Linked DNA regions of Homo sapiens: region 2 is linked to region 1. Evidence: fine-mapped expression QTL. A gene starts in region 1. The other region holds a variant in brackets. All regions are shown on one strand. Distances are between the middles of the regions.

Region 1 (5,377 bases):
GTCTCAGCTAGAACCTCTGGGACTGCAGGCCAGCCCCACCCAAGGCCAGCCTGACCTTCCCTCCTGCAGGGCCCAGGTGTTTGGGCAGAATGTTGCCAGAGCGGGCACCATTCCCCAGCCACAGGCATTATCAAGTACTAGAGCTCTTCACCCCACGGACGTCCAGCACACAGCACAAGTGCACGCTGCGGCCGAGGGGAAGGCCTCCTAGGAGAGGTGAGACTGGCTCATCCCTGAGGGAGGCCAAAGTGGAGCGGGTCACCGGGGCTCACTCCGGGAGGCAGGAGGCCGTGTCACTCAAGGTCAACTTCCATGAGTCGACTGAGCTCCAGGCCACACCCTCGGACACAGCAGCCAGACCCAGGCTCCGCCCGGACAAGGTCTGACTCAGCCCACGGGACAGGACAGGGAGCTTGGGCAACAGCCGCCCTGTCTTCCTTTTTCTGCAGGACGGGGCCAGGCACAGAACGAGCTCCCCAGGCCCAGCTGGTGCCTGCCTGGCCGAGCCCGGGAGAGAAAGCCCACCCTGCGGAGCCGAGCCCGCCGCTCCAGCCTCAGCCCTGTCCTGGTTCCTCGGGGGCCTGAGTGGGGCCCACAGCTGACTCACTGAGAAGAGATGCGTCTGAAGCGTGCGGGGCAACGTGGGAGGACGATCTGTCTGACTCCCTTCCTCATCTCCCAGCCTCGACCCTGCCTGCGCTCGCCCCCTTGGGTCCTTTGAGTCTCATCCAGAGCACTGGGCTGCCTTCCGGGGTGGGTGTTGACCCAAGCTCTGCTCCGCCTGGCCCTCATGCTGCTGGTTGGAACCCGGGATCCCTGGTCACTGGCTGCAGATGAGTAACCTCCAGCCTCAAGGGCACTTGGCTGGAGTGAACATGGTGCTTACGGCTCACTGTGGTGACCCAGGCAGAGACCATGACGACTCTTGGTGTCAGGGTGAGATTTCTGTGTGCTCCATGATGACTCGTGGATATTAATAAAACAGTGAAGAACTGCAGCAGGAGGCCCTTGACTGTCCAAGGAACGCCCCACACCTACGACACCCACTGACTCTTGGACCATGAAACCAGCCCTGCACCCTCAGACACTCCACCCAAAGCCAGTTATGGCTTCCCCAGTGCCTGGACATGGTGGGCCAGGACGCCAAGCCACAGCAGTGAGTTACGGCTCGTGCCAGCATTGTGGGCAGCAGGCAGCCCCTGGGCCCATCCAGCAGATCCCGGGCCTGTCTCGGCCAGAGGCTGGCCCTCCATACCCAGCCAGCAAAGGAGGAGGGGAGAGGCCCCGGGGTCCACCTGGAAGAGCCCTGACCCAGGCCTGAGAGTGACTCCTGCCCCTGCCCCCGAGCTTCCTGACCATCCCCGTGACCTGGCGCCTCCCTGAGCTGTGGGTCCTGCTGCCAACTCTAGCTGTTCATTGCACGTTGGCCAGATACTGCCTGACCAGTTCCTGAGGCTCCGGGGGATGGCTGATGAGGGCACACAGGGCGGGAAAGGCTGCAGCGTGCAACACCTGAAGGGGGTGGGGGCAGGACGGAACCCAGCCCAGCCCAGGAGCCGCCCCTCACTCAGAGTCAGGTGGAGGGGAGGGCGGCTCCAAGCGCGCCTCTGCTGTGTGCCTGCTGTCCTGGGGCTGGGAGGCGTGGAAGGAGAGAGGGCCAACGCAGGGCCACCTGTATGTGACTGGCTGGGGAAGAGGGACCCAGGCTGGAGCCACTGAAGGCTGGGAAGGGCTGGGACTCCGTGACTGGCAGATCCCCCGGGGCACCCAGCCCTGCTCTGTGCCCTGGGCCCAGCCACCTCCAGGACAGACAGTGCCCCCAGTGCCCGCAATCCCTAGCCACCTCCAGAAGGCACCCCCCGCCCCCAGCCAGCACCTGGCACCTCGGGCTGTGGCCACAGGAAAACAAAACCCGGCTGGTCCGAGGGACTGAGGGTCCCGGAGCCACCTGTCCCCGCCCCTGCCCCTACCGTGGCGTTGGAGCAGTTGAGCAGGCTGATCGCGAGCAGGAACACCCAGCGGCGCGCGTAGGTGCGGTGGCCCCGCTGCGCGCACAGGGCCCGGGGCTCGGCCAACCCCGTCTCGGCCTCCGTCGGCCCCGCCATCGTCGGCGGCCTCCACGGGTCTCCGCCGGTCCCGCCGGCCGCCCGGGCTTAAGGACCTTCCCGCGTGGGCCGGGACCGCCTGCGGGCGGAGGTGGGGCCGGGCCGGGCCGGGCCACGGGGGGCCAGTTCCGCCCCAAGGACTACGGAGGAGGGTCCCGCCCCGTCCCAGTTAAAGGAGACCCAAAAAAGCGGGGGAAGGGCGGGCAAAGGTGAAGTTGGACCCTCCTCCTTCGGCCTCAGGCTGGAAGTCCCTGCCACAAAAACCGAATGTCCCTTCCGGGAAGGGCCCCGGTCACAGCCTGTGTGCTTCTCAGCAGGAAAGGCGGCCTGGAAGTCACTCTGCCCAGCAGAAGCTCTGCACTTCCTGAAGGGGGCTGTGGACCCCAAGTTCCTGAGGTTCAAGCCAGCCACAGGGAGGGGCCAGAGGCCAGCCTGGAAGAAGAGGCTGGGCTGGCTTTGCGCAGAGCCTCAAATCAGACCAGTCCCTCTACAGCCCCTGCGGGAAGCAGGCATGGGGTAGGAGGGCGAGGGGCTGCAGGCCAAGGCTGGAGGGAAGGCCAGAAAGGCCTGTGGGCCCCACCCTGGGGTAGGCAGTCCGCCACACACGCACCGGATTGTTACCTGCATTTTACAATGGAGGACACGGCTCTCAGAGGAGTAGGCACAGGTTTCTGTTTGTTTAGGATGGAGAGGCCTGTGTGTTGGAAGGCAGAGGAGGGAGTTTCGGCTTAGTCTTTTCTGCAAGAACCTGCTGATCCCACAACTGTGCCTGGCCCACCCTGGGGGAACCCAAGAGGCTCCAGGCCCTGTTGCTGAGGCCAGTATAGGGGTGGGGTGGAGGCTGGCCTGGTCAGACGTGCAAACAGGATTTCCCCCAAACAGGGAGGCTCTCTTGACCCTTGAAACCATCCCCGTTTCCTGAACAGTATTATTCGTGGTTTTTGTCTTAAACATTCATCTCCTTTGCCAGGGCCTGTCCATTTTCCACACCTGAGTCTGAACAGGCTAATGATGAGGCCCCAGCTTTCACTGTGCAGTCTTCTGCAGGGATTGTGTGTGTGTCTCAGATAGAGCTCTCCACTTTGGGATTTTTTTTTTTTTGTAGAGTCTCATCCAGTAACAAAGAGAAAATGGAGCTCACCCGGGGTGTCCTGAGATGGGTGGGCCCCAAGGGGGTTCCATTCTCTGAGACGTGTGATGGAGCCCTGTGGTCCTCACTCTCTTTATCTCCTCTGCCTTCCCCACCGTCTAGCCTCCCCCCTCATCTTTGTTCCCCATTCCCCCACCAGTTCCTTCTGTTCTCCTTCTCCTCACCTCTTGCTCGCCCTGCCCTGAGGACCCAGCCCCCTCACAACCTTCCTCCATAGTCCAGTGCCAATGTTGGCCTAGGGCCTTCAACATCCCCTAACCCCACCTGGCAGAGGGGGAGTTGCAGTGCAGGCTTCCCTGTTGAGGGACCTCACTATTGTGGAGCACTGCCTCTGACAGGTGGTGTCTGAGCCTGTCACCATGAAATGGGGCAGCCACAGTAGCTACCTCCATCGTTCAGTCTCTGTTGAGCGTGCATTGTCGAGGGGTGTCACCATGAAACGGGGCAGCCACTGTAGCTACCTCCATTGTTCAGTCTCTGTTGAGCGTGCATTGTTGAGGGGCTCCTCCTCCCTACATGTCGGAACTCTTGGGTTGAGCAGGTGAGCTCAGCAACATTGCAGAATGCAAGATCAGCACACAACAATCGCTTGCATTGATGTATACCAACAAGAAACATGAAAACCAAAGTTAAAGACATTCATAATTACTCCAAGGAAAATTAAATACTTTGGTATAAACTTAGCAAACCATCTACAGAACTTGCATGCTAAAAATTACAAACCATGGGCCGGGTGCGGTGGCTCACGCCTGTAATCCCAGCACTTTGGGAGGCCAAGGCAGGTGGATCACAAGGTCAGGAGTTCAAGACCAGCCTGGCCAACATGGTGAAACCCAGTCTCTAGTAAAAATACAAAAATTAGCCAGGTGTGGTGACATGCACCTGTAGTCCCAGCTATTTGGGAGGCTGAGGTAAGAGAATCTCGAACCCGGGAAGCAGAGGTTGCAGTGAGCTGAGATCATGCCACTGCACTCCAGCCTGGGCAACAGAGTGAGACTCTGTCTCAAAAAAAAAAAAAAAAAATTACAAACCATGGCTGGGCGAGGTAGCTCACATCTATAATCCCAGCACTTTGGGAGGCCGAGGTGGGTGGATTACCTGAGGTCGGGAGTTCAAGACCAGCCTGGCCAATATGGTGAAACCGTCTTCACTAAAAATGCAACAGATTAGCTGGGCATGGTGGTGCATGCCTGTAATCCCAGCTACTCAGGAGGCTATATAAGGTGGGAATTGATTAAACCCGGGAGGCAGAGGTTGCAGTGAGCTAAGATCGTGCCACTGCACTCCAACCTGGGCAACAGAGGGAGACTCTGTCACAAAAAAAAAACAAAAATAAAACAAGGAAAAAAAAACAAGCTGTGCCCCAACCACCTTGAGCACGTGCCATCAGGACTGCCTGAGGCTATGTCACAGGTGTGTCCTTAACCTTGGCAAAATAAACTTTCTAAATGGGCTGGGCACGGTGGCTCACGCCTGTAATCCCAGCACTTTGGGAGGCCAAGGCAGGCAGATCACTTGAGGTCAGGAGTTTGAGACCAGCCTGGCCAAAATGATGAAACCCTGTCTCTACTAAAAATACAAAAATTAGCCGGGCGTGGCGGCGGGCACCTGTAGTCCCAGCTACTCGGGAGGCTGAGGCAGGAGAATGGTGTGAACCCAGGAGGCAGAGCTTGCAGTGAGCCGAGATTGCGTCACTGCACTCCAGCCTGGGCAACAGAGCGAGACTCCGTCTCAAAAAAAAAAAAAATTTAATTTTTTAAAAAATCGCATAGTATAAGTCCACTTATTTGGAAACAATGACTTTTTCCACTCTTGCATCTAATGAAACAGTTTTGTTTACATTTCTCCACAAGCACCTTCGGCACACTCACCTAAGCTGCCCGAGTTTTGGATCCGGGTACAGCACCATCCTGGGATCCTCACCCCAAGCCCAGAATTGCCTGTGTACGTTTACATGGTGACCTCCAGACAAAGGCACCCAGCGTCTTGCTTTCCAAAAGGATCTCTGGTCAGGTTTGGTAGCTCACGCCTGTCATCCCAGCACTTTGAGAGGCCAAGGCGGGCAAATTACCTGAGGTCAGGAGTTCGAGACCATCCTGGCCAACATGGTGAAACCCCGTCT
Region 2 (5,377 bases), 410 kb before region 1:
TTTCAATCTATTCCTATATGTTAGTTATTGAAAAACAATAGACAATCGCAAACACAATTTGACCTTTTTGTGTTCCTTGAGTCCAGTCACAAAGGGCCCTTGTGACTGGGCCTCATGCCAAACAACTCATTACAAAAAGAGCTAGGGTCCCAGACCATGCCGAAGCTACATGAGACCTCTCTTCGTCTGTGCACGGAAGGGTGGCGGACTCTGGAGCCCAGGCTGTTGCTTCCCAGTCTAGTGGTGAATCCTCCACAGGCTGGTGAGTGTAGTGTCTGACTCTGGAGCCCAGGCTATTGCTTCCTAGTCTGGTGGTGAATCCTCCATAGTCTGGTAAATGTAAATATATATATCTCCTTTTCCTTCTCCCCTTCCCATTGCAATTTGCTTATTGTATCATTTGCTTATATATCTGCATTGCCATTTACATGGGATAAAGGTTGTTTACCCTTAAAGATATTGTGTGTGTGTCTTTTCTTCTCCCCTCACGCGTTTCCCGCACAGGACAATCTTACAAAAACAAAGCCTGAGAACATTATGTTAAGTAAACTGAGATAGTGAAAAAAAAAACAGACATGGGGGCCGGGTGCAGTGGCTCATGCCTATAATTCCAGCACTTTGGGAGGCCGAGGCGGGCAGATCACGAGGTCAGAAGATCAAGACCATCCTGGCTAACACGGTGAAACCTTGTCTCTACTAAAAATACAAAAACAAAAAAAATTAGCTGGGCGTGGTGGTGGGCGCTTGTAGTCCCAGCTACTCTGGAGGCTGAGGCAGGAGAATGGCGTGAACCCGGGAGGCAGAGCTTGCAGTGAGCCAATATCACGCCACTGCACTCCAGCGTGGGTGACAGAGCGAGACTCCGTCTCAAAAAAAAAAAACAACAACCAGACATTATATTATATAATTACACCAATAAGAATATAAAAATCAGTCAAAATTATAGAAATAGTAAGTAAAATGGTGTTCTTCAGGACCTGAAGAGAAAAAAATGGCAGTTTATTGTTTATGAGGTATGAACTTTACTTTGATAAAATTAATCTAGAGATCCATTTCAAAATAATGTAAATGTACTTAACTCCACTAGGCTGTACACTTGAAAACCTTTAAGCAATGTTAGGTTTTTCATCACAACTAAATATTTACATCTACCTAAAAAGGTTACATTTTTCAAAAATCACCTTCAAATAAAAAGTGTTTCTCTCACAGAATAACATATACTCAAACAATAAATAGGTGGTAATTTTTTACTGTTTCTTTGACTACTCACCTATAAAAGAAAACAGTGATGACCACCAGAAAGAAAAATTTATAAACCAGGTAGGGGCATTATTTACACAGGCAAACACCACATAGATAACTTTTATAGGCTATAGAAATGTCTGAATTACACATATATTTTAAATTGCTCCAAGTGAAACCCAATGATTTTTATTTGAATTAAACACCACATGGTCATAAAAGGTACAGAGTTGAAAATTACCATACAAATATGAAGATTAAAAACAAAAAATAATTGAGGAGAACCTACATGAAAAAAGACTCCCCAGTAAAATAGAGTTTGAAAACAATAAAAAATTCTGACCTATAAAATATAGAATATAGATGTAGATGTATCATAAAAACAATCCTTCAAACAACTACAGTTTTCAACTGTGACTATGTACTTATGAAGATCCAGCATTTTGAATCTTTGACATGCAATGTACAGCAGTAAGAAAAAAAAAAAAAACGGCCAGCTGCAGTGGCTCACACCTGTAATCCCAGCACTTTGGAAGGCTGAGGCAGGTGGATCTCAAGGTCAGGAGTTCGAGACCAGCCTGACCATCTCTACTAAAAATACAAAACAAAAAAATTAGCCGGGTGTGGTGGCTGGCGCATGCCTGTAATCCCACCTACTCGGGAGGCTGAGGCAGGAGAATTGCTTGAATCCGAGAGGCAGAGGTTGCAGTGAGCTGAGATGGTACCATTGCACTCCAGCCTGGGCAACAAGAGCAAAAAATTCTGCCAAAAAAAAGCAGCAGTTATGTCCTGAAAAAGGAAATTTATGGGAGCTTTGGAATCCATGTCAAGGGTTGTGAACCCAAGACTGAGGAGGGCTGTATTGAAAAGGCATGCCCTTGCTTGAGTGGCATGCTTGCCCATCACAGTCCCAGCTACAGAATAAAATGTGTCCAATTTTCATTGTAGACTTAGCTGCAGACCATTTGGTTTTGTTCCTGCTACTAGCACCATCTGCAAAGACACCTAGGAGAATTTCTAATGTTCTATGCCTCAGGTGAAAGGCCTTTAGAAGTTGGTTCTATCTGTGATCTCTGAATTAGCCCCAAATCCACTCTTTACACATGTCAGTCATGGTGTGGAAGGAATCCTGCCCAGACACCCACAGAGAGAAACATCCATCTGTGCCCGAATGTAGGCTTGCCAATAATTATTTGACAGTGGATCTTGACGTGGCACTATAAGCTGGCTCCAAGTCCATGCAACCAAGTCCAGAAGAAGTTTTTCCTAACCTGGGACCTGCCAAAAAGCACACCTGTATGTGCCCCTGTAGGCATGCTGGCTGACTTTATTCCCACTGTGAATTGTAAAGCAGTCCTATAACCAAGCTCTGGTCTCTGTCATCTAGAGTCTGGAAGAAGTCCTACCCACCTAGAAATCCACAGGGAGAAATACCGTTAACCCAGAAAAAGACCTGAACACTTTGGTCTCAGCTGTGTATCCTGAAGCAGCCGCATGAATCAGTTTCATACCCTCTCAGCTGTGATCAAGGGTCATTACTGCTCATCTAGGAACCTGTCCAATGACTAGGTTAGAGCATTTCCAAACACCTCGCAAGAGCGACACAGCAGGAGCCACACCTGCTCACATTGATTGTATCAGCACCTTAATCTGCATATATAACTGGAGGCTTTTTTCCTCAGTGCCAGTCATATTGATCAACATCTTGAAGAAAGTTCAGTCTTCTCAGAAAATAGAATCCACAACTGTCTGATGCCCTGATGACAGGTCTGCCAAGCAGGAATTTCACTGCAAACCCAGTAGTAGCTAC[G/A]TGACCCGGATTCCAAAGCACTTTATTGCAACCTCAGTGGAAATCTCATCAGCCCAGAAATCCAATGGGAGAAGATATTTACCTCCTCAAACTAGTCTATAATGACTGAAAGAGGTATTTACTCCTTCAGATGCAAGGACATCAAAACAAAGCCTCATGAATTATGAAGGATCAGGCAAACATAACAGCATGAAAGGAAACTAAAAATGCTCCAGGAAGCACTAACAATAAAACACAGATCTAAAAAATGGCTAACAGAGAATTTAAAATAATTATCTTTAAAAATCTCGATAAGATGCAAAAGTACACATATTACTAAATTTTTTGCAACAATGCATGAAGAAAACCAATGATAATAAAGAAAGATAAGCCATTAACAAAGAACCAAGGCGATATGCTGGAGCTGAAGTACACAATAGTAGAACTAAAATATTTAACAGAAAGCTTTAACAGGAGACTCAGTTATACAGAAGGGGAAAAATCAACAAACTTAAAAGTCATTTGAAAGTTCGTAAATAGACTTTTTTTAAAAAAGTGAATAAAGCATATAGCTTCAATAATTTGTTAATGGTATATAATATAAAAAGATGTAAAGTGTGACATAAATAGTGTGTTGAAAGGAGTAAAACTGTTTAATATTTTTATACATAGAAGTTCACTTTTGCTTGAGGCCAGGAGTTCAAAACCAGCCTGGTCAATATAGCAGGACCCTGTCTCTAAAATAAATACATAAATAAAATAAAATAAAGATTTCAGAAAGCTATTTATTCTTTTTTTAAAAAGAAGCAGTTGGGCCTGATAATGCATGCCTATAAACCTAGCACTCTGGGAGGCCAAGGCAGGTAGATTTCTTGAGCCCAGAAGTTCATGACCAGCCTGAGCAACATGGCAAAACCCTGTCTCTACAAAAAATACCAAAAAAATTAGCTGGACATGGTGGCATGTGCTTGTAATCCCAGCTACTTGGGAGGCTGATATGGGAAAAGTGTTTGATATTGGAGAGTTCAAGGCTGCACTGAGCTGTGAACCCACCACTGCACTACATCCTGGGAAACAAAGTAAGATCCTATGTGGGTAAAAAAGAAGTTAGATTGTTACCTTAAGCTAGACTTTTTAAACTATGAGATATTTTATGGTCCCTTGGAAATTACAAAAAAAAAAATGTTGAAGATACATACACACAAAAGAAATTAAAGCATATAACAAGAAAAATGAAACAAACTCAACACCATACAAGGGAAGGCAGCATGAAAGAAAAAACAGAAATTACTAAATGGTTAGAAAACAATGAACAAAATGATAGTAATAAGTTCTTATCAATCAGTAATTCCTTTAAATATAAAAAAAATTTAGTTAGCCAATAAAATCACATTGCTATGGTTTGAGTGCCCCCTCCAAAATTCATGTTAAAATGTAACTGCCATTGTGAGAAAATTAATAAGTGAGGCCTTTAAGAAGTTATAAGGTCATGAGAGGATCAGTATCATTATTCCACGAGTGGGTTAGTCATCATGAGTGGGTCTATCATAAAAGTGAGCTCGTGTTGTGATGTGGAAATATGATTGTCATCAGATGGGAATGACATGCTCTTGGACTTCTTGGCATCCCAGATTGTGAGCTAAGGAAACTTCTATTCTTTATAAATTACCAACTGTAGGATATTGTTATTGATGCAAAAAATAAACTAAAACACTCGCGAAATGTCTGAATAGATTTAAAAAATCAACAACATGCTGCACACAAGCGACTTACTTTAGATTTAAGGAAATACATAGGTTAGTGGTTCAAGGATGAAAAAAAAATTCCATGCCAGTAATAACTAAAAGAGTATAGAAGTGGCTATATTTACATCAGACAAAATAGACTTCTAAAAAAAATCTGCCACAAAAAAAAAAACTTCATGATATAGTGATAAGAGGCTAATCTGTCAAAAGAATATAACAATTAAAAATATATATATACCCAATATTGGAGCACATAAATATATAAACATATATTAAAAGAAATGGAGAAACAGAAAAACATAATACTGGGGGACTATATTGCCCTACTTAATACATCATTCAGACTGAAAGTTAGTAAGAAAACAATTGCTTGCATAGCACTATAAAACAACTGCACCAAAAGACATATATATAGAACATTTCATCCAAAAGAATAATTTATATTCTTCTCAAACACACATGGAATATTCTCTAGCATACATCATAAATCTGGCCCACAACAAAGACAAACAAGTCTTTTCATTTTTTAAAAGACTGAAATCATATCAACTTGTTTGTGTTTTTTTTAGTTTTTTTGAGAAGGAGTCTTGCTCTGTCGCCC

What was found.
Region 2: its variant is fine-mapped to the expression of SLC49A3 in cerebellum (GTEx, PIP above 0.99).

The regions. Positions count from the first base shown.
Region 1 is chr4:687,023-692,399 of GRCh38, forward strand. SLC49A3 (solute carrier family 49 member 3) reads right to left here and starts at 2,129. Exons shown (of 10, transcript NM_032219.4): 1 at 1,971-2,129. The coding sequence starts at 2,105. LOC124900643 (a long non-coding RNA gene) reads left to right here. Exons shown (of 2, transcript XR_007057985.1): 1 at 1-216; 2 at 450-997. RefSeq lists enhancers at 1-495, 1,444-2,392, 2,393-3,340, 3,116-3,165 and silencers at 1,916-2,085, 2,116-2,175.
Region 2 is chr4:278,577-283,953 of GRCh38, forward strand. The region is part of intron 3 of ZNF732 (zinc finger protein 732); the gene reads right to left. Among named protein-coding and RNA genes, the nearest start is that of ZNF732, 24 kb to the right of the region's middle. The variant G/A (reference allele first, on the strand shown) is at 3,053.